Linked DNA regions of Homo sapiens. The protein of the gene in region 3 interacts with the protein of the main gene of each other region in a biochemical or structural test. Each region holds a gene or a part of one and is shown on either strand. Other genes may lie near its edges. The genes, in order: ATM, ESR1, SMC1A and POLI.

Region 1 (5,124 bases), on a different chromosome or scaffold from region 3:
ATTGGGTTGCAATCTGTAGCCTAAAAAAAAAAAAAAAGGATAATTTGAAAACTATTCCATCACATTAACAAACTAAAAGGAAATATATAGACATGGTACTCTTACAATATCCTAATTAGAGAATCACCATCATTTCCATAGTACTCTAAAAATAAACTGGCTGTTAATAGTTACTATGTCCTACTTCCTAAATTGGCAGGAAAATTGTCAACGTTTGGCTAGCTGGGTAAGCTGTTAAGTTTCCCTTAAACAAATATTTTAAAGGATATTAAATTAGCAATATTTGGGCCAGGTGGTTTCCCAGCACTTTGGGAGGCCAAGGCAGGCAGATCACGAGGTTAGGAGTTTGAGACCAGCCTGGCCAACATGGTGAAACCCAGTCTCTACTAAAAATACAAAAATTAGCCGGGCATGGTGGCACATGCCTGGAATCCCAGCTACTCAGGACGCTGAGGCAGGATAACTGCTTGAACCTGGGAGGTGGAGGTTGTAGTGAGCCAAGATTGTGCCACTGCACTCCAGCCTGGGTGACAGAGTGAGCCTCCGTCTCAGAAAATATATATATATATATATATATATTTAGCAATATTTTATTTCTGAGTTATCTTGTACATCCTTGCTCTTTAGTCACCAAACGATTCCTCTAAAACAGGAAAACAAAGAAACCCAAAAAACTGTTTTTCCTTTACATTAATTCAGTTAATCCAATAAACATTTGCTGTGTATTCTCTAGAATGTGTGATACTTAAGAATAGGAGTCTTATGTTATTCATCTCTGTATATCTAACGCTTAGCCCATAACAGGTGTTCAATAAATTACTCTTGACTAAAAGGACAAATTAAGAATCTTAAATAGCTACTCTTAACTATATAAAAATGAGCTTAAGCAATAGGTATCTAAATCAATATGCTTTTCCCCAGAAGTCACTTACACTTAAACATTCCATCAACATGGTAATCAAAAGAGCACTGATCACGAGTTTGACTATAATCTATAAATCTCTGTCCCTACAGAAGTTGCTTAACCTCTCTGGGTTTCAGTTTCTTTTCAGTAAAGCAAACAGGCTGAACTAGATAAATTCTAAACATCCTTACCAGATCTAATATTTTGGGATTCCAAAGTATCCATAATTTATTTGATTACTTAAATATATGTGAACGTTACATGAGAATAAAGAAGATAGAAAATAAGAGAAAATAACTTTTTATCATGGCATAAGGTCAAAATTATTCTGTGATTTCTTAAGATTATCTTTAACTTCTTCCTAATTCTATTAGAAGGTGCTACGTATGCTAAAATCTATTGTTGAAGCGTACAATTCAGTGAATTCCATGAGGTGCACACTTCTAATTGCCTATCAGAGAGCCAGTCCTCCTTCTTAACTTGCTATGACAATATGATTAAAATAGGTGGCCCTGCACTTGGCCCAAGCAAATGAGCCATTAATGATTGATCTCATTTGTCATGGCAATCACATATCCCTTTGCTAGTAATAGGTTTGGGGGTAGACAAATGACTTAGTTCTGGTTGAGATGAAAGGATTCCACTGAAAGTTTTCTGAAAAATAACATACAAGAGATTAAAATGACACTGAATGAGAAAATGGTAACACTTTACCAAGGCACAAGATCAAAATCATTCTGTGACTTCTGAAGGTGATCTTTTATTACTTCCCAGCCTAGTTCTATTTTCTTCCTTTTGCAAGGGACACTGTAATCACTAGATTCTCTTTGTGTAGTAGTGTAAGATTGAGAAATCTCCAAGGATCTGGTATCTTCATTAAAAACCTGTAAAATAAAAATAAATCCACTTTTTTCTTTTTTTTTTTTTTGAGCCAGAGTTTCGCTGTTGTTGCCCAGGTTGGAGTGGAACAGCACGATCTCGTATCACCACAACCTCTACCTCCCAGGTTCAAGTGATTCTCCTGCCTCAGCCTCCCGAGTAGCTGGGATTACAGGCTTGCACCACCATGCCCAGCTAACTTTGTATTTTTAGTAGGGACAGAGTTTCTCCATGTTGGTCAGACTGGTCTTGAACTCCCAACCTCAGGTGATCTGCCCGCCTTGGCCTCCCAAAGTGCTGGGATTACAGGTGTGAGCCACCACGCCTGGCCAAATACACTTTTTTCATTGCTATTGTCTTCTAATATTTCATTAGGGGGAAAAAAAATTCTTTCTGAAATGAAGATACAGGGAACTCATAAAGCAAGAGTAATACATTACAGAAACATATAAATCTGATAACATAGTAAGAAACAAACATTTTGCATGACAGTAATGGCACTTTAGAAAGCAGGTATTACCAAGTAATGCATTAGTTTTATTTCCTGGGAACATTTACTAAAAGCACTAAGAAATCTAAAAGTAAAGCAAAAACCTTTACTTTCAAAGGGATTCAAGTTTTTAAATTTAAGAAATTTTAAGAAATATTAAGAAAATATTTGACAGAGTGAAATTACTACTCAGGATGTTAACCAAATCTCTGGGGAACAGAGTTTTATTTAAGAAACATTAGGCCATCAGGTGATGGATGGGTAAGTAAAATGGAGTATATCCATACAACTGAATATTATTCAGCAATAAAAATGAATGAAGTACTGATTCATGGTAAAACATGAACTTTGAAAACATTATGCTTAGTGAAAGAAACCAGACACAAAAGACTCACATATTGTATGATTCCATTTAAACGAACTGTCCCAAACAGGAAAATCCACAAAAACCAAGATTGATTAGTGGCTGGTTGCCAGGATCTAGGAGATGCAGGGAATTGGGACTGAATGCTAAGAAGGGATGAGGTTTCTTTTGGGATGATAAAAAAGTTCTGGGCTGGGCACGGTGGCTCACGCCTGTAATCCCAGCACTATGGGAGGCCGATGCAGGAGGATCACAAGGTCAGGAGTCTGAGACTAGGCTGGCCAATATGGTGAAACCCAGTCTCTACTAAAAAAACAAAAATTAGCTGGGCGTGGTGGCAGGCACCTGTAGTCCCAGCTACTCGGGAGGCTGATGCAGGAGAATCACTTGAACCCGGGAAAGGGAGGTTGCAGTGAGCGGAGATTGTGCCACTGCACTCCAGCCTGGGTGACAGAGCAAGACTCCATCTCAAAAAAATAAAAATAAAATAAAAAAAGTTTCCAGAATTAGTGATGATGGTTGTACAACATAGTAAAAATACTAAAAACCACTGAAATGTACAACTCAAAATCGTGAATTTTATGCTATGTGAACTCTAGCTTAATTGCAAAAAAGAAACAGACTGGGCTTGGTGGCTCATGCCTGTAATCCCAGCACTTTGTAGAATACAGTCGAGTCGAATCGAATCATTAGGGTTAGGGTCACCTTATTTCCTAGAGACAATCATTTAAGAATGAAAAAGTTCATTGTTAGTTTTCAAATATCTGCAAAAGCATTAACTTTTAAGTTAAAAGGGTAATTCCAAATATTTCTGATAGTTTGAAAGGAATAGTTGCATGTACAGAGTCATTTTATAGGCTTTTTGTGAGAACACAGGTTTTAAAAGCCCAAAATGCCCAGTTTAAAAAAAAAATTAACAGGAAATTTCTAAATGTGACATGACCTACTTACTGTACCTGGTGACAGATATCTGCCATCAATTCAATCAAATTTTCTTTGACGGCAATATTACGAAATCCTGAAGAATACTTTCCTCTACTTCCTATATGACTTATCTCATTCACTAGCAGATCATATAAGTTGTATAAAATACTTCTCCATTTTGTTGATTCATAAGCACCTGTAATCCAAAAAATTAAAATGTAATTTTTATGTATGTACTCTGTTTACACTGCTAGCTCCCACAAAATTATTCAGCTGTCAAGCTGCATCAGCGTTAGAAGACACCTGGTCCAACCTTCCATTCAGTACTAATGCCTCTTCTGACAAGATCCTTGACAAACTCTATTTCATAACTGTCCATTTTACATTTAGATAACTGTGTTTCTTATAAATTTCTTCCATATTCTGACCTAAAATCTGTCTTTCTCCAATTTATTCTCCCACCTGAGGCAAATACAATTAATATGTTCCCTCTTTCATATGAGGACCAAGTTCTCCGTATGCCTTTTTCTGGCCTAAGAGAAAAATATTACGAGTTCCTTCAACTAGTGTAAAAATGACATATTATTCAGACTTCTCACCATTTCAGTCATCTTTCCCAAGACACATTCCAGTCAACTTAAAATGCTGACTATACAAAATCTGGTGAACATGGTAATCCAACTGTGGCTTGACTAGTATGCGAAACAAAAGGTCTATTATTTCTCACAAACAAGGTACTACAAAATCTATTAAAGTAGTCTGAAACTACATTAGCTTTTCTGGCATCCTCATCATCCTGCCAATTTTAAATTCACCCTAAATATGCAGTTAACTAAATCCCTAAACATATCATATCACCTCCTAATAAGCCTGATCTTCATCCTGGAGATAAGAGGTGAGTAAAAGATGAAAAACTATTAAAAGTCACTATTCTTTCACTTATAGTAGTTTCATGGGCTACATATTATCTAGATATACTTATTAGAAGAGCCCATAAAACAAATACACAGCTACTTTTGATAAAAAGTGGCTACACGGCCGGGCACAGTGGCTCATGCCTGTAATCTCAGCACTTTGGGAGGCTGAGGCGGGTGGATGGTTTGAGGTCAGGAGCTCAAGGCCAGCTTGGCCAACATGGTGAGACCCCATCCCTATTAAAATACAAAAATTAGCTGGGCATGGTGCCAGGCATCTGTAATCCCAGCTAATCAGAACGCTGAGGCAGGAGAATTGCTTGAACCCAGGAGGCGGAGGTTGCAGTGAGCTAACATTGCGTCACTGCACTTCAGCCTGGGCGACAGAGTGAGACTCTGTCTCAAAAAAAAAAAAAAAAAAAAAGTGGCTACAAGACATTTCCTCCATTATAGCTGCTATTACTCAATGTGGTATGCTGTTTTAAGAAAGTCACTATACTAGCCATGATGAGTTGGTCCAAAGGCTAGTATAAGCCCAAAGGCAATCATAGACAGAGCAAGAGGAAACTCCAGTTCCAGCCAATAAAGTTCCTAACTACAGAAAAGCACTATACCTTCTGGGCAATACTCTCTTGGTATAGGACATATA
Region 2 (8,286 bases), on a different chromosome or scaffold from region 3:
TATCCTAGCAGGGAGATGAGGATTGCTGTTCTCCATGGGGGTATGTGTGTGTCTCCTTTTTCTTTCAGGACTTGTAGGATTCTTTGTGCCATTTGCATATAATTTGGCAGGTTCACATTTTTTAAGAGCCCTATGAAGTGCTTTTTGCATGTGTTTTAAAAAGGCATTTGAAAATTGAAAGTGTGATTTATGGAAATTAAATCATCTGTAAAAAATTGCTTTGGAAAGTAATGATTGCTGGCCATAAAGGGAAATATCTGCGATGCACCTAATGTGTTTTTAACCCTTTATTTGCTGACAATCTATAGTCATTAATGCTAAACTCGATTTTGGCTTCAGCTACATTTGCATATTGTCCAACAATGGTCTATTTTTGTAAGAATTAGATAAAATGTATACTTGATATAAAATAGTCAAAAATGTAACTCTTAGTAACAGTAAGCTTGGCATTTAGATAGACCATGAACACTTCGTCAGATACTCTGTTGGGTGTTTGGGATAGCAATTAAAACAAAGTATTGATAGTTGTATCAGAGTCTATTAGGCTGCAGCAAAGGAAGTTTATTCAAAAGTATAAACTATCCAAGATTATAGACGCATGATATACTTCACCTATTTTTTGTCTCCTTAATATGTATATATATATATATATATATATATATACACATATATGTGTGTGTGTATGTGCGTGTGCATGTTTAACTTTTAATTCAGTTAAAAACTTTTTTCTATTTGTTTTTCATCTGGATATTTGATTCTGCATATCCTAGCCCAAGTGAACCGAGAAGATCGAGTTGTAGGACTAAAGGATAGACATGCAGAAATGCATTTTAAAAATCTGTTAGCTGGACCAGACCGACAATGTAACATAATTGCCAAAGCTTTGGTTCGTGACCTGAGGTTATGTTTGGTATGAAAAGGTCACATTTTATATTCAGTTTTCTGAAGTTTTGGTTGCATAACCAACCTGTGGAAGGCATGAACACCCATGTGCGCCCTAACCAAAGGTTTTTCTGAATCATCCTTCACATGAGAATTCCTAATGGGACCAAGTACAGTACTGTGGTCCAACATAAACACACAAGTCAGGCTGAGAGAATCTCAGAAGGTTGTGGAAGGGTCTATCTACTTTGGGAGCATTTTGCAGAGGAAGAAACTGAGGTCCTGGCAGGTTGCATTCTCCTGATGGCAAAATGCAGCTCTTCCTATATGTATACCCTGAATCTCCGCCCCCTTCCCCTCAGATGCCCCCTGTCAGTTCCCCCAGCTGCTAAATATAGCTGTCTGTGGCTGGCTGCGTATGCAACCGCACACCCCATTCTATCTGCCCTATCTCGGTTACAGTGTAGTCCTCCCCAGGGTCATCCTATGTACACACTACGTATTTCTAGCCAACGAGGAGGGGGAATCAAACAGAAAGAGAGACAAACAGAGATATATCGGAGTCTGGCACGGGGCACATAAGGCAGCACATTAGAGAAAGCCGGCCCCTGGATCCGTCTTTCGCGTTTATTTTAAGCCCAGTCTTCCCTGGGCCACCTTTAGCAGATCCTCGTGCGCCCCCGCCCCCTGGCCGTGAAACTCAGCCTCTATCCAGCAGCGACGACAAGTAAAGTAAAGTTCAGGGAAGCTGCTCTTTGGGATCGCTCCAAATCGAGTTGTGCCTGGAGTGATGTTTAAGCCAATGTCAGGGCAAGGCAACAGTCCCTGGCCGTCCTCCAGCACCTTTGTAATGCATATGAGCTCGGGAGACCAGTACTTAAAGTTGGAGGCCCGGGAGCCCAGGAGCTGGCGGAGGGCGTTCGTCCTGGGACTGCACTTGCTCCCGTCGGGTCGCCCGGCTTCACCGGACCCGCAGGCTCCCGGGGCAGGGCCGGGGCCAGAGCTCGCGTGTCGGCGGGACATGCGCTGCGTCGCCTCTAACCTCGGGCTGTGCTCTTTTTCCAGGTGGCCCGCCGGTTTCTGAGCCTTCTGCCCTGCGGGGACACGGTCTGCACCCTGCCCGCGGCCACGGACCATGACCATGACCCTCCACACCAAAGCATCTGGGATGGCCCTACTGCATCAGATCCAAGGGAACGAGCTGGAGCCCCTGAACCGTCCGCAGCTCAAGATCCCCCTGGAGCGGCCCCTGGGCGAGGTGTACCTGGACAGCAGCAAGCCCGCCGTGTACAACTACCCCGAGGGCGCCGCCTACGAGTTCAACGCCGCGGCCGCCGCCAACGCGCAGGTCTACGGTCAGACCGGCCTCCCCTACGGCCCCGGGTCTGAGGCTGCGGCGTTCGGCTCCAACGGCCTGGGGGGTTTCCCCCCACTCAACAGCGTGTCTCCGAGCCCGCTGATGCTACTGCACCCGCCGCCGCAGCTGTCGCCTTTCCTGCAGCCCCACGGCCAGCAGGTGCCCTACTACCTGGAGAACGAGCCCAGCGGCTACACGGTGCGCGAGGCCGGCCCGCCGGCATTCTACAGGTACCCGCGCCCGCGCCGCCCGTCGGGGTGGCCGCCGCGCCCGGCAGGAGGGAGGGAGGGAGGGAGGGAGAAGGGAGAGCCTAGGGAGCTGCGGGAGCCGCGGGACGCGCGACCCGAGGGTGCGCGCAGGGAGCCCGGGGCGCGCGGCCCAGCCCGGGGGTTCTGCGTGCAGCCCGCGCTGCGTTCAGAGTCAAGTTCTCTCGCCGGGCAGCTGAAAAAAACGTACTCTCCACCCACTTACCGTCCGTGCGAGAGGCAGACCCGAAAGCCCGGGCTTCCTAACAAAACACACGTTGGAAAACCAGACAAAGCAGCAGTTATTTGTGGGGGAAAACACCTCCAGGCAAATAAACACGGGGCGCTTTGAGTCACTTGGGAAGGTCTCGCTCTTGGCATTTAAAGTTGGGGGTGTTTGGAGTTAGCAGAGCTCAGCAGAGTTTTATTTATCCTTTTAATGTTTTTGTTTAATGTGCTCCCCAAATTTCCTTTCATCTAGACTATTTGATTGGAAATATGTCAGCTATGATGATGACTTTCTGGGAAGCGATTCCTGTCACCCGCTTTCCCCTCCTCCCCACCCCACGTCCTGGGGCTTTAGAGAGCGATTGGGAGTTGAATGGGTCTGATTTCGGAGTTAGCTGGCTGAGTCCGCGCTGGAGCGGATTGCTGGCATGTGACTTCTGACAGCCGGAAATTTGTAGGTGTCCCGCGAGTTTAAAACAAGCCATATGGAAGCACAAGTGCTTAAAAATAATCTCCTGCCAGCCCAGTGACAAGCCTGTCCCACCCGGGGAGAATGCCCCGGAGTGGCGTGCGGGTCAGCCAGGGTCTGCGCCTCGCAGCCACTGTGGAAGGAGCGCGGCCGGTCCAGGACACAGGAGACCACTTTGTGACTTCAATGGCGAAGGTTGTGTGTCCTCATTTTAATTTTTTTCCCTACAAGAATTGTTCTTTCTCCCTCTCCTCTCCCTCCCATTTTCTCTTGCCCAGTTTCTCCTTTTGTTTTTTGTTTTTTGTTTTCCTGATGGGCCTGCAGAGGGATTAGGTGGGCGCTTCTGGTGAACACCTTCCTAGGTGGCCACAGGACAGGTGTACCCCGGACTGGGTTTGGAAGCTTCAGGGCGCCACATGGCTGGGTCCTGAATTAGGCATTTCCCAACTGTACACTGGTATCCGGACTGGTGTCCCTATATCTTTCTGCCTTGTAAGCCGTGGACCAGTTTTTGTTCAGTATTCTGTTTCCAGGGATATTTATAGCAGAAGGAAGGGGACTAAAGTGCAGTTTGGCCCCAGAGGATACTGAAGGGCAGATTCTGGGGGTATTCAGTGTGCATCTTCAGCCGCCTTGGAGAAATTTAGAGCATCCCACAGCCACGCAGATCCAAGCTGTCTTTACTCAAAAGACAAACAATGAACAAAACTTTTAAAGGTTGGCATATTTCAAATTAATTTTACTTGTTTTAATTTAGGGTTAAAACAGAGAAAAAGGATTTCTTCTGCCCACCTTTTTTTTTTTAAATGGAAGAACAAAGTACAGCGATTAAGTCTAATTCCACACAACATTTAAAACTGCTTGATGTGAAGGAAGGCACTGGTATGATGTGAATTCCATAACCTTATGATGGACTCCAGAAACCATTTTCTTCCCTATTTAATTTTCAGTTCTTTTATTGCAAATTAATGCTGCTGAATTTCAATGGGCACTAATGAGACTGCTCCTTGGTAGATTATTTACTGCCTTGCTAATAATTACAAAGTGAACCTGGTCAAATACAGAGGGGATCGCATCTTATTCAAAATTGTTCATCATCCCAGTGATAAGTGGTATCAGTGTAATATGCCCTATCTTACACTTTCTGCATTACATGATATTCAAACACTCTTAGAATAATAAAAAAAGAGACAAGGAACTTAAAAATTAAAAAAAAAACTTGCACAAATGGGACTCTGTGTGGAAATTCAGTTTTAGAATGATTTTTCCTGTGTTTTATTTCCCGGATTATCTTTCCTCTTTTGTTAGAATTCTGCCTGTTATTATCCAGCAAGGAAAAGAAGCATCTATGCAAGTTCTTCATATGGACAGATATTATTTAGTATTTTTCCCCTCTCAGTTTTTCTGCTTAAATGACTCTGGGTATAAAGGAAAGGATTGATTGGGCTCTTTTAGGAAACTTTAAGTTTCTTAAGTAGTTCTCAAAAGTTTTGGGGCTGAAAGCAGTGTTTTCAAACTGCTTGTCATGACCCAGAGGGTCATGAACTCAGTTTAGTGAGTCTAGAATATTTTTTAAAAGGACTAAAATGGAAAGGAATATAATAGAAAATATCAGAGTGCATGGTATTTCGTAAGGATAAGTTTTGTTTCCTGAAAATCTGTTTTAATTATATGTGCTTCTGTGTGCTGATTGTGATGTAAAATGTATTTCTTACTGTGGATTGAATTCAAAGAAAAAATTAGAAAGCTAATGGCCTAAAATATTATATGTTCAGTAGAAAACAAAAAATTCAGGCAAGTGGCTGGTTGTTTTTACCTATACAAATCAAAAGGCTATTTTGATTGTCTTCATTTTCCCCTTATAAATTAGGTTGGTGTCTTTAGTCATTTAGGCTAAGTTTTACTATCTGATTCTTAACTTTTCTATTGTAGAATGGTGCTGTCATGTGGACTGTCCTCCCGAGTGTCCCACTGGATGTTCAGAGAATTTATGTGAAGGTCACGTCATTTAGCATTGAGATGCTGTGGTTACCTTCTTCCATTTCTTCCATAATATGCAGCCACATCTATGTGTGAAGAAATGTAATAGATAAAATTTCTCTGGACGCATAATAATGTGAGAAAGATTGTCACATGTCCCAGCAAATTGTTATTAATATAAATTTGTTACTTGGCAAGCTGAGATTTTGCAAGATGTTACTCAAAATTTCACAATGAAGGAAACAGGGAGTCATCTTATCCTGGGTTCCTTTTTTAGATTTCAAACAACTTAGGAACTTTGAATAAAACTAAAGATGAAGCTTAACTATATCAACTATCCTTTTTAAAGTTCTAATTAGGAATTTAATGCTGCATGCTTATTTCAGTTTTATTACTCAGTATTCTTAAAAGTTAGACGTCTCTCACTTCTCCAAAAAACTTGGCAAATGTATAAATCTTTTGCATCAAAATCAATGCCCTGCTAATTTGTATCCTGGCCATCTGCATATTTTGGACAACTAATTTTTCCACTGGTGATCATTTGAAACTCTTTCTCAACTTTGAATAGAGACTGATTTCCAAAGTGAGATTTAAGTGACTAAGTTTCAAGTTTCCGATACATTTTTCCTTTTACTTAGATAACATTTCAGCCCCCTTCCTTTCTGATCTTACTTTTTTATTAATTTAAATTGTTACTGATTACGTGACACTTTGTGCTGGTCTAAGAATAGTCCAGAGTCACATATTCCCTGGTGAATGAGCATATTTTCGGATGAAAACGGAATCACATCTTCAATCCCCATTTCATTTTCACCTCCTCCATGTGGCTTGTACCTGTTTGGAAGAAAGCTCCTGAAGGATAATTGCCACTTATTCTAATCTTTCTCACACTCATTTAATTTGGATCCCTGGCTAAAGTTGTTATTTACTTTTGTGATTATACTTAGTCTATGACATTCATAATTTGGGAAAATTCTCAGGTTTGAGAATTTTGGCGGCTTGGGATTTCTTTTAGTTTCTTATAGTTTTAAGGATATGTAAGACAGGTGTAAGAAACTGCCAAGGGGAGGAACCATAGATATCAGGAAAAACTAGAAAAGATGCCAGACTTACCATTAATGAATGATGAGACAATAGTAACTTTGTTAAGTGAGATTGTATATGTGAAAGTGGTATAGAAACTAAACAAACATTAGGTGTTTTTATTATTTTACTCACATGTTAATATTTGTTTTGGTGCTTTCATAGGCTAAAAAGCTGGGAAATAACAGATTTAAGTGGTCAGGAATTTTGTTATAAATATAGAATGATGATTATATGAAATCTTTTCCTGTGAAAGTCAAATTTAAGTAAAATCTTTATCACCATCTGCAACATTTGTCTGCAGCCTGGCTTACCAGGTTATCATAAAGAACATTTATTTTACAGATACATTAAAGAAAGTCAAAACCCTGATTATGTGTAAACAATTTTACATAAGGAAATATATGAATTTTAATTATATTTTTCTAAAATCCGTACTCAGCATGAAATTAATACATCTTAACCCCTCCCTGTGACTTCATTATTATTTTTAATGTAACTTTAGAAGAACCCAGTAGAGAGAGCAGCGTGCTAAGTGTGTTTCTTTCTTTTCCAGACAACTTTGAATGGAGAGGAGCAAATTAGTCTTTTGGTTTAATTCTGTCTCAGTTTGCTTATCTAAAGAAAGGAAAACAGAGTGGCTACACTTGTTTAGAACCATATGCATACTCCAGAGAAAGATGCTCTATTAATCCAAAAAATACAGCCACTTGAAACCAGCCAAAGCGAAAGTGTAAGGGACTTCATGGAAAGGAGGCAGTTCACCAAAGTTATTGAGGGGTTTTATATTTTAAACTCCGCCAGTGAATTGACGTGTAATGTCACTTACAAAAAAAAAAAAAGTATGTCTGAGCTGTTCGCTACTTCGTCTCTAAAATATACTCATACTGATCTCTGAAATCCCAGAATTTAAGTGGGCTGGAGGTTACGGGAAGCACCTTTATAATATCCTTAATCTCATGAGGGAAGAAACCATAATTGCTGAATTCTCTGCCTTGGATAATATCAGGAGGGACTCTGAAGAAAGTTTTGCAGTAATCAACAATGTTTTAAATTATGTGTATATTTTTAGATCACCTCAAAAAATATAGGAAGCACAGAATGACAACTATTCTGGTCTCAACTGACACAATTTTATGTAGTTTAATAAAGTAATAATTTCAAGAAACGTGGGCAAATAAGAAAGAGTATGACTTTCTTACAACCCGCTTGTAAGTGATGTGGTGGTGGTAATGATCCATGATTTTGATGATGACGATGATGATGAAAATGAAGTTTTTGTCTCAGTTTGGGTAGGTGGTATTTCTGGATGCCTCCTATGGACCCTGGAGATGTTCATCCTATACAGAAATCCAATCCTTTAAATCTACTTGGCTCATTGTTTTAGAATTCTAATTCCATAGTCTGAAAATTTTAATAATGATATTACCAATAATATTAGAAACTTATTAAGTACCTATAATTGCTATACAAAAAATTTAAAAGAACCCAAAATTCCAAGCAAGACTGAAAATTTTTTGTCTCTCCTCTGAACTATTTAGAGGGACAAATTAGTTTGTTCTTATAATATCTACTTTAAATAAATGTGCCATCTTTAATAAGATAGTAGACTTCTTTGTTTGGTAATGTTCTATTTTTTGGAGATCCTATGAGTTACACTTGGGAAAATTATAAAAGTTCACTTAAAGTTAATAAAATCCATTAAGTAATGTTCAGAACTAGACATTTCCAAATGAGCCCTTGAAAAGCTCAGGTGGGTTCTTTTTGAGAGTTCCCCAAATGTTGTCAACCCCAGGAGGAATGGAAGACCTCTGCAGTTTTGTTATTCAGATTCTCATCTCCTTCTCAGAAGCCGTAGAACTGGCCGGGCCCTAAGGTCCACGCTCCTTGGTTCCAGTTCTGTCTTCCATCCTTCGGTCCCGGGCTCATTCTGCCTGTTCCTAAACGGTGGCAAGTTAGGGGCCCCAGCAGCCAACTTGTGCTTACCTGGCACTACTTCCTGGGCAGTTTTCTTGGCTCCTTGACTTGTTGGGCGGCTTGGG
Region 3 (3,500 bases):
CTCATCTGTAGGCTTCACCTGTGGGGAGAAGCTCAGTCAGTGGCAGAACACAAACAGGGAGTACTAGAGGAGGGGCCCTTGAACACTGGCCTGACCCAATCCCCAACAAGCCTCACCTCCAGGTAGTCAAGAGGCAAGAAGGTCTCAGGCTCCCCACGCTGCTCCTTGATATACTGAATACAGTCCCGGCCTGTCTTCTCCGAGTCCACAATAATGGCATCCATGTTCTTGCCCAAAACCTTGGTTACAGCAATCTGATACTTCTTTTGTGTGGGCTGGCATAGGTCAATGAGGCGGCCGTACTGAGTAAAGTAGGAAGGGAAAACTGAAGTATGAAGCTTTTGGAAGCTGGCTCAGGAATCCTAATTCCCAGTATGGAAAGGGGGACAGACTAGAATCTATATCAGGAAGTGAATGCAACTGTATTGCCTAGTGGTTAAGATAACCCAATACCAAGCATGGTAGTGTGTGTTTGTAATCCTAGCTACTTGGGAGGTTGCAATGGGAGGACAGCTTAAGCCCAGGAGTTCAAGACCAGCCTGGGCAACATAATGAGACCCTGTCTCAAAACAAACAAAAAAGACAGCCCACTAGTTCTGTACCCATGCAACCCTACCCTATCTGAATGAGACTGTATGGACTGAGGAGGAGGCAATTGCAGACTAGCTTGCTGTGTGCACTCCAGATCAGCACAGTGGCCAATCCTAACGTCCCTTTGAAAGGTGGAAAAGTTTGGGTAAGAGAAGGGAGGTAAAGAAATGAATAAATGAGTTATGTAATGAGGGAAACTCAGTATTACATTAACACCTCAAAAGAGGTTCAGAGCAAGAGATGATATTGTCTCTTAGCACAATTATCCCAGATGCCTGAAAGTATGAAGCTATGTTTGCCGAGAACACTCCTGGTTTTGGAACCTAACAAGATTGAATAGAAGCCTGCAAACCTGAATGGCCTCACCCTAGGAGACATTTTTACATGACATGATCATGGACTAGACTAATTATTAATTAATGACTCAGTGGGATTCTAGTAATGTGCCAGTATCTTTCTACTCTTTTTTGGAGACGGAGTCTCACTCTGTTGCCCACGCTGAAGTGCAGTGGCGCAATCTTGGCTCACTGCAACCTCCACCTCCCAGGTTCAAGTGATTCTCCTGCCTTAGCCTCCCGAGTAGCTGGGATTACAGGTGCCCGCCACCATGCCCGGCTAATTTTTGTATTTTTAGTAGAGACGGGGTTTCACCATGTTGGCCAGGCTGATCTCAAACCCCTGACCTCCGATGATCTGCCCGCCTCGGCCTCCCAAAGTGCGAGGATTACAGGCGTGAGCTACCGCTCCCAGCATCTTTCTATTTATTACATGATTGTTCTGATGTAAGGGATCTGTGTTTGAAGATCAAAGTGGACTGTGGTTTTATGAAATATATATTTAGTCTTCTACCCGTGAGTTCCTGACACACAACTCCTAAAACCCTTAGAATCTCAGGAATGAGCAGTGTCTTTTGTATGTTAATGAGATGATTATGGCTGGAGGCCCATAGATAGCTTCTGGATAGGGGCTGGTTACCAGAAAGACCAAGGCAGGATTAGATTTGGGACTCTTAGCTCCACCCCTACAACCTTCAGGAGGGGAGAGGGGCTGAAGGTTGAACTGATCACCGATGGCTGATGATCTGATCAATCATGACTACATAATGAAGCCCCTGTGTGGGGGTACCTGGAGGGTGGCTTGCCCAGATTGGGCATGGAAGCTTCACATCTCTTCTCCCATACCTTGCCTTATGCATCCATCTGGCTGTTCTCTGTATCCTTTGTAATATCCTTCATAATAAATGGGTAAACATAAGTAAAACATTTTCCTGAGTTCTGTGAGCTGCACTAGTAAATTAATCGAACCCAGGGAGGGATTCTCGGGAACTGTAATTTATAGCAGGTCAGTCAGAACCACAAGTCACAACCTGAGACTTGCAATTGGCACCTGAAGTCTTGGACTGAGCCCCTAACCCACAGGATCTGATGCTATCTCCAGATAAATAGTGTCAGAGCTGAAGTGAATTATAGGTCACCCAGCTGGTGTCTGCTGGAGAATTGCTTGGTGTGTGAGGAAAAACCCCCACACTTCTGGTGTCAGAAGTGAAGTGTTGTGCTGGTTGTGAGAGTAGAAAAAACACTTTGGTTTTTTCCTATCTCACAGAAGAACACAGCCCCCATGCTATCAAGGAAAAGCCTATTCTGGTTCCCAAGCAATGACTTCAGGCAGTCGTGTCTGAATCCAGAATCATCTTTCTAAACCTCACATCTACCATTTTACAGACCACCACCACCCAGGCACTATGCCAAGTATCTTATATATATTATTTCAAATTCTCACAAGCACTTAGCAAAATAAATCTGGCTGGGCGTGGTGACTCACGCCTGTAACCCTACCACTTTGGGAGGCCGAGGCGGGCAGATCACTTGAGGTCAGGAGTTTAAAACCAGCCTGGCCAACATGGTGAAACCCCGTCTCTACTAAAAATACAAAAAAATTAGTTGGGCATGGCGGCGAGCACCTGTAATCTCAGCTACTTGGGAGGCTGAGGCAGGAGAATCACTTGAGCCTAGGAGGCAGAGATTGCAGTGAGCCGAGGTTGTGCCACTGCACTCCAGCCTGGGCGACAGAGCGAGACTCCATCTCAAAATCAATCAATCAATCAATCAATCTCTTCTACCAGTTCCCTTCCTGCAGCCTCCAAAACCAAGCCTGGTTCCCTAAGAACTATCAGATTAAGGGGGCAGGGACTGACTCTAACCATACTTATCTCCCCAGCAGTGTCTAGAGAAGTGATAGGGAAATATTAGTGGAACCAAACTAAGTTGAACCCAGGTATGGGATAATATTCAGGGAACCTGGGAACTCAGGATTTGGTGAAAGAGGCCAAAAGATCAAGAGATCTGATAAAGCTCAGGGTGTCCCTAAAAGCTACTGGACCAGTTAATACATGCCAAGGGAGCCCCTTTATAAGACTGCACAGAGCTACTTCCTGGGAGAGTAATTCCAGCCCCATGGCCCCACCTGCTTCCAAAATCTTTCCTGGTTTTCCAATTCCCCTCCCAGAGGCATAGACATAGCAAGACAAAACCTTCAGAAAGACGCAATTGGTATGATGAAAAGAACATGATTGCCTAGTATGACAGGTTGAAAAATAAAAAAAAAAAAAAAAAAAAAAGAACATGAGCTCAGGAGAACAAGTTGGGTTTGAACTGCAGTTCTTCCTCTTAGAAGCGGTGCTTTTTTAAACCTCTCCGAGCCTCATTTCCCCCAACAATAAAAATGGGATTGGCAACCCTGTCCTTACAGGGCTGCTGGGAAAATCGTGTGACAGTGAGTGTAAGTGCTCAGGAAATGAGTTCCCTCTCTGCTCTTACCACAGAGCCAGGGTAAAGGCGCTTGATGCTTTCCATTATCTCTGCCTTTCGCTGCTGGCGGCTGCTCTCCTGGCGGTCGATGCGGGCATCCCC
Region 4 (7,395 bases), on a different chromosome or scaffold from region 3:
AAAGAAGCAGAAGGAGCATCACAATGTAAAATCCAATGTATGGTTTCTCCTGAATGTACATTGTTTTTGCACCATTATGAAGTTGAAAATTTTTAAGTTGAACTATTGTAAGTCAGGGAACATCTGTATTCTGTGTGCACTTTAACAAAATGTTTTGCTGTTGTGTGGACTTTTGTATAAATGTCAATTGTTCAGGTCTTCTGTATCCTTACTGATTTTTTTTTGTATGTTCATTTTAGCAATTATTGAGAAAAAAGTATTCAAATCTTTGTGTGTGTGTGTGTGTGATGGGAGTTTCACACTGTTGCCTGGGCTGGAGTGCAATGGCACAATCTCAGCTCACTGCAACCTCCATCTCCCAGGTTCAAGTGATTCTCCTGCGTCAGCCTCCCGAGTAGCTAAGATTACAGGTGCCCGCCACCACGCCCAGCTACTTTTTGGTATTTTTAGTAGAGACGGGGTTTCAGTATATTGGCCAGGCTGGTCTCGAACTCCTGACCTTGTGATCTGCCCACCCTGGCCTCCCAAAGTGTTGGGATTACAGGTGTGAGCCACCACACCCAGCCTCAAATCTCTTAACTACAATTGTGGATATTTTTCCCCTTGCAGTTTTATCAGCTTTTGCTTTATGTATTTTGAGGATGCATTAACATTTAGGACTATTGCATTCTCCTGATGAACTGACTCGTTTATCATTTTGAAATGATTTTCTGATTAAATTCCTTTGCTCTAACAAGCAGTTTTCCTGTTGAAAGCTATTACATCTTTCTTTTGATTAATGTTAGACTCGTGTCTTTTATCCAATTTTTACTTTTAACATATTTGTCTTTATTTTTTAAAAAATTTTATATACACAGCAGACAGTTGGGTCCTACTTTTTCATGCAATCTGATAATCTCTGCCCTTTAATTGAGGTTTTTAGATCATTTATATTTAACATGATTTTGATATGACTTAAATGTACCAACCTACTATTTGTTTTCTATTTTCCCCATGTGTCCTATTCCTCTTTTCTCTCCTTTTAAGCTTTTTTTGGGGATTGAATTTTGTGGCTTTTTATTATTCTATTTCTTATCTTCTTTACTGGCTTATTAATTAAAACTTATTTTGCTATTTCAGTGGTTATTTTAGGGTTTATATTATACATCTCTAACTTATCACAGTCTGTCTTCAAGATGTAACCCACCACTTCATGTTTAGTTTAAGGGCCTTACAATAATATACTACCATTTCTATACTTAAAATTATATACTTCCCCTCCTGGCCTTTGTACTGTTACATTTTACTCCCACATATATTGTAATCCTACAATATATTTTTAATAATTTTTATTTTTGTTTTATATAGCCAACTTTTAAAAAGACACTTAGAAATAAGAAACAAAAAAAGCTTTTAAATATACTCATATTTCTGGTGCTCCTCATTTCTGTGTGTAGATCTGTATTTCCATCTGGTGTGCTCTTCCTGCCTGTTGGACTTCCTCTAATTTTATGGGTAATGTAGGTCTACCGGGCATGAGTTCTTTCATATGTATGCCTTATGTTCTTATTTTCCTTTTTTTTTTAAGATATCTAAGTTAACCAACTTTTCCCCCACTTCTTTACTTTATTTGAGGATGTCAGACCACTGTCTTCTGGCTTCCAATATTTTCAAAATTGTTGGCTTTGCTTGTTTTTCTGCAATAGTATGTCTTTTTCAAGGGATGGTGTTTATCACTGGTTTTAAGAGCTCTGATTAGGTTACTCCTTGGTATAGTTTTCTTCACGTTTATTGTACCTGGGATTTGCCAAGCTCTTTGGACCTGTGGGTTTATAGTTAACCTCAAATTTGGAAAAATTTCTCCATTGTTTCTTCACATATTTTTTACATCTCCCACCCTCTTCTCTTCTTTGGGGACTTGAATAAGACATGTATTAGCCTGCCTGAAGTTGTCTCATAGCTCACAGATGCTGTGTTTATTATTTTTTCTCTGTTTCTTTCTGAATAATTTATTGCTCTGACTTCTAGTGCACTAATTTTTTCTCCAGCAGTATCTGCTGTTAATTCCATTCGGTGACTGATATGCAGTATGATACTTACATGAGATATTCAACATTTTATTATAAAACAGGCTTTTTTTGTTTTGTTTTGAGATGGAGTCTTGCTCTGTCACTCAGGCTGGAGTGCAATGGTGGGATCTTGGTTCACTGCAACCTCCACCTCCCAGGTTCAAGCGAGTCTCCTGTCTCAGCCTCCCCAGTAGGTGGGACTACAGGCGTGCACCACCACGCCCAGTCAACTTTTTGTATTTTGGTAGAGACAGGGTTTCACCATGTTGCCCAGGTTGGTCTCGAACTCCTGAGCTTAGGCAATCCACCAGCCTCGGCCTCCCAAAGTGCTAGGATTACAAGCATGAGCCACCACGCCCGGCCCAGGCTCTGTCAACAGGCTTTGTGTTACACTACTTTGCCCAACTGTAGGCCAACGTGAGTTGCTCTGAGTATGTCTGAGGTAGGCCTGGCTAAGCTATGATGTTTCATAGATGTATTAAATGTATTTCACTCATGATATTTTCAATTTACAATGGGCTTATCTGAGCATAACCACATTGTCAGTCAAGTCATACCTATATTTACTAAAGTAGATCACTTTGGGGCCATAATACATCTCAAAACTTATTTTAAAAGATTCTGTAGTAGGGCCAGGGGTGGTGACTCACACCTGTATCTCAGCACTTTGGGAGGCTGAGGCGGGCAGATCACGAGGTCAGGAGTTCAAGATCAGCCTGACCAACATGGTGAAATGCCATCTCTATTAAAAATACAAAAATTAGCTGGGTGTGGTGGTAGGTGCCTGTAATCCCAGCTACTCGAGGCTGAGGCAGGAGAATCACTTGAACCCAGGAGATGGAGGTTGCAGTGAGTCAAGATCACACCTTTGCACTCCAACCTGGGCGACAGAGCGAGACCCCATCTCAAAAAAAAAAAAAAAAAAAAGATTCTGTAGTATAATTGGTCTGGTCTTCGTTCAGGGTTCCTGGACACCAAGCTCCTAAAACCCATGGAATTTCCTAAACAACAGAAGTGCCTTCATTATTCATGGTAAGCCCTGACACTGTATGCTAATGATGTGACCCACAGTGGGCCCTAGACAGCTAATGCTAAAAAGATGATTTAGGATGGAGGTAGCTCACTTCAAAAAAACAACCATGATTAGGGTGTTGAGACTTTGAGCCAGCCTGATGTCCAGACAGAGGAGGGAAACTGGAGATTAAGTTCAAGCACACAGTAAAGGTTTTAATAAATCATGCCTACGTAATGAAACCCCAAAGAAAACTCTGGACTTCTTGATTACTTGATATGTTTTATTTCTTGACTTGGACAGTTACATAGTTGTTACAATTACTCATTAACATGTTCATTTATGTTTATGTACCTTTCTATATACAGATTTTAAAATAGAAGTTTTTTTAATATTGAAAACAATCCAGATTTGATGGAAGACACAAATCTGCAGATTCATAATGAACCTAAATCCATGATAAATCTATAGCTAGACATATAATAAAAACTGCGTATCTCCAAAGTAAAAGATATTATCTTAGAACAGCTCAAGAGATGTCAGTTCTAAATCTACAGCTCTAAGGACATAATTTCAGAAGGTATAAAGAATTCTACCTAGAAGGAACATCTGACACACAAGAAAAAAGGTAAGCCCCCACCATGTCCCATCAAAAAAATAAACATTGACTATATAAAATACTAATAATATCCAATTTGGAGATTTAATAAAGAACTTGTGGAATTTAATTAGAATTAATGTTATTTCAATACCTTTGTGTTGTTTGGAAAGAGGGTAGCATTTTTAGATGTTTAAGGATAATCAAAAGGACTTGTAACATTCACATTCCAAATCAGTAAAGGGAAAATATATGATTAAATAGAAAACCCAACTGATCCCAAAAGATAGGAGGAGAGATAAAGGTGGGAAAGAAGCACAACATAGAAAAAGAAATATATTAAAAAATAAGATGGCAAAAAATAAATCCAAATAAATTTGTACTTTGGCACTACAGTGGAATAGATACTTTTTAGAGTTCTCCTAGTACAAAACACTAGATCTTGGAGAAAAGAGACCTCTTAATTCATTGCTGGTTTGTACCATATAAGGGAAATCTCCAGGCCTACACTCAAGACAGAAACCCCCTCTACACTATACACTCAAGAGAGAAACAGAAAAAATAAAAATAAAAATACCCTCTACATTCAAGACAGAAACAGGAAAAAAAAAAAACAACAACAAACTCGAGCTGAAACAAAAGCAAGAAAGCAGCAGAAAGCATCAAGCAAGAAGCAAGCTTGAAAGATGGGGTTTATCCCTGGAGGCAGATAGCTAACAGCATCTGCCTGTTAGTTTGGAATTGACCTGCAGAGACAAAACCTTCGGCTAGTAGTAAGGGTCAGGGAGCTTACACTTAAGACAAGGCATTCAATCAGGATCCACAAAGGTGAATAGAGTATGCCAAGGAGTTTGTACCACCTCACCCAGAGAAGCAACGAACTCAAATCATACTGAAGGAAAACATACACAATTTAGGCCCTCTGTCTTCTCGCAGATTAACACATACTCAAGGAAATAAGTCACAATGATATGCAATAATAACCTTAAATGTAGACTTATAAAGACTTAAAATATTGAAATTATCAAAAATATCATATATTTGACTTTTAAAAATTAGAAACAGACTTACAAGGGACTGTAATGAGTAAACGGGAAGTTAAAAAGAATCAAATGAAAAATATATTTATTGAAATTAAAACCATCATTGTTTTAAATAGCAGGTGAGATGCTACTGAAAAATGAACTAGTAAACAGAAAGATAGAGCTGATGAAATTACCCAAAATGCAGTAAAGAGAAACAAGAGGATGAAAAATATGAGAAATTAAGAGACATGAAGGATACAGTAAGAAAGTCTATCATTTGTATACAGTCCTAGAATAGAGAAGAAATATTTGAAGAGCTAGTGGTTGAGAATTTTACAGAACATGAATTAAAAGATACAGGAAGAAGCCAGTATATACTAAGAATAAAAATAAATTCGCACTTCCAAATAATACAGTAAACCTGCAAAGCACCAAAGAAAAAAGAGATAATCTTAAAAACAGAGAAAAAAGATCCCATAAAAAAGTTGATTCTGAGGCCCAAAGATGTTGAGACTAACTTAAAACCACAAAATAAGTAGCGTAACTGTGACATAGCCCGTACATTCTCAATCTATGAAATGTATTTTTAACTATTTTGCTTTCTCTTTTTAAGCTGGCCAAAACCATTTACTTTGTTTTCTTAGCCATTTTTTCTTAAGCCCCTTCTAGCTGTCCAAGGTCCTGAAATCATTACAAGGACTATAAAATGTTTTAATGATTTACAAAAAGTTATATACCCTTTTCATAAGTTTAATTACCTTACTGGAATACTCATGTAAAAAATACTATGTTCCTTGATTCAGAGTACTAAATATTTGCATGGTGAACAATTTCTGATGTTCTTGCTTCAAGTTACTGTTCCTGATAACCTCAAACTACCTATTTACAATCCTTCGTGTTAGCATATTTTCAAATTCCAAGGAATCCAAAACTAAGTTAAAATTTCAGAGCTGGGGCCAGGAGCAATGGCTCACACCTGTAATCCCAGCACTTTGGGAGGCCAAGGTGGAGGATCACCTGAGACCAGGAGTTCGAGACCAGCCTGGCCAATATGGTGAAATGTCATCTCTACTAAAAATACAAAAATTTGCTGGGTGTGGTAGGGCATGCGTGTAATCCCAGCTACTCAGGAGGCTGAGGCAGGAGAATTGCTTGAACCTGGGAGGCGGAGGTTGTAGTGAGCTGGGATTGCGCCACTGTACTCCACCCTGGGCGACAGAGTGAGACTCTGTCTCCAAAACAAAAAAAGAAAGAAAAGAAAATTTCAGACCTAGAAGAAAGTATTTTTAAGCTACTCTTTGGTTCATATTTGTGTACTTTATTTTTAAAGTCTCTTCTTTAGATTATATGTGCAAAAATTATAAACTTGAGACCAGGATACTCCCATATTGGTGCTGAGGGATACTTTAGTATATTCTATAAACATCCTCTATGTCTTGCAAATTATATAATACATTCTCAATCTTATATCCAATTTTTAGTTTAGCAGGCAAAAGAGGAAGGCAATAACAATGGGAGAAAGAGGACATCCACCAATTTAGTAATGGTCTATATTTGTGGTTGTTATGACAACCTAATATCATCTCCAAATGTAGGGAAGATACAAAAACATCTCAGTGCTTTTAGGCCCTTCAAACTAGCTAGAAAGAAATGGACTTCTTCCATTATCCAGTATGCTTATAGGCCCATCACCTTGCCTTTCTGGTGTCCATCTTTCCCTTAATTTACTTGCACGGAGAGTTCCTTCTACCACTGTTCTCTATAACATATACCCTCCTCTCACTTTAACTCCCCACCCTGGCCCTAGCCAAACCATTCATTCATTCAATGTTTATTGAACGGCCTTTGTGTGCTGTGTATTGTGGTAGATTCTTGGTGTATGAAGAAGCATTAATTGAATATAAATTGCTTTGGTATTTTAAAAGTCAACATACTAAATGTAATGTAGTACTTTAGTCAAAACTATCTATATTTTTAATAGGTTAGTTGGCAGTAGGATTTGCTATTCAGCCTAAGAGGCTGAATTTGAGATATTCCACATTTCACAGGAAAAAAAAAAAAAAAATGTGTCCTTTACCATATCATTGCAACGATTTGGCTATTTTTTATATATAAACATATACATCTCCCCACCAATTCATGAAAAATATTCTATGTTGACCATGATATTCTTTTTATTGAAAAGTAATATAAAATGGCTTTAGACATAAAAGATAGTATTTTACATTATTTCTTCTGTTATATTTTTACGCTTTGTGCCAGAATTTACTTCTTGCAACTATTCTTGCTTTATCTGGAACAGTTTACTCCGTTATTGAATATCTATTAGTGTTTAATATAGAAGAGCTTAATAAACCGCTAATCCGAAAATAATGGTATTCCCTTGCTTTTCAGACCTTTTTGCTGAATATGCTTATTTATGTCCAATGTGGAAATCTGATCCTGCTCTCTTCCACTCTGCCAGCAGTTCCTTTTGTACTGCTTCTGGTAGTTCATAGAAAACTTGAGGATCAATGTCAGAAGGGAAAGTAATTTTCTCATCAACAGAATCTGGCTCTCTATTTTCTGTAAGTCCTTCATGAGAGTCTGTTGCTACTGTTTGCTTATGGCTATCTGTAGTGTGGTTTCTGGAGAAAAGTTGCTCACTCTGCAAGTTTGGAAATGAATGAAAAGCAGACACAGCAGGGTTTGAATTTGTAAAGTGGAATCCTT

Evidence for each region.
Region 1: the proteins of SMC1A (region 3) and ATM form a complex in vitro, tested with the Homo sapiens proteins (2 studies listed by BioGRID and IntAct, with this or other methods).
Region 2: the proteins of SMC1A (region 3) and ESR1 form a complex in vitro, tested with the Homo sapiens proteins (one large-scale study listed by BioGRID).
Region 4: the proteins of SMC1A (region 3) and POLI form a complex in vitro, tested with the Homo sapiens proteins (one large-scale study listed by BioGRID).

The regions. Positions count from the first base shown.
Region 1 is NC_000011.10:108,245,597-108,250,720, reverse strand, and holds part of ATM (serine-protein kinase ATM), read right to left. Parts: intron 3,758-5,124; coding exon 3,594-3,757; intron 1,789-3,593; coding exon 1,619-1,788; intron 21-1,618; coding exon 1-20.
Region 2 is NC_000006.12:151,805,896-151,814,181, forward strand, and holds the start of ESR1 (estrogen receptor), read left to right. Parts: upstream 1-1,786; 5' UTR 1,787-2,017; coding exon 2,018-2,469; intron 2,470-3,211; exon of another isoform or gene 3,212-3,376; intron 3,377-8,286.
Region 3 is NC_000023.11:53,405,655-53,409,154, forward strand, and holds part of SMC1A (structural maintenance of chromosomes protein 1A), read right to left. Parts: coding exon 3,408-3,500; intron 303-3,407; coding exon 117-302; intron 112-116; exon of another isoform or gene 19-111; coding exon 1-18. UniProt on the Homo sapiens protein: Involved in chromosome cohesion during cell cycle and in DNA repair. Central component of cohesin complex. The cohesin complex is required for the cohesion of sister chromatids after DNA replication.
Region 4 is NC_000018.10:54,294,169-54,301,563, reverse strand, and holds the end of POLI (DNA polymerase iota isoform a (long)), read right to left. Parts: coding exon 7,097-7,395; 3' UTR 3,330-7,096; downstream 1-3,329. UniProt on the Homo sapiens protein: Error-prone DNA polymerase specifically involved in DNA repair. Plays an important role in translesion synthesis, where the normal high-fidelity DNA polymerases cannot proceed and DNA synthesis stalls. Favors Hoogsteen base-pairing in the active site.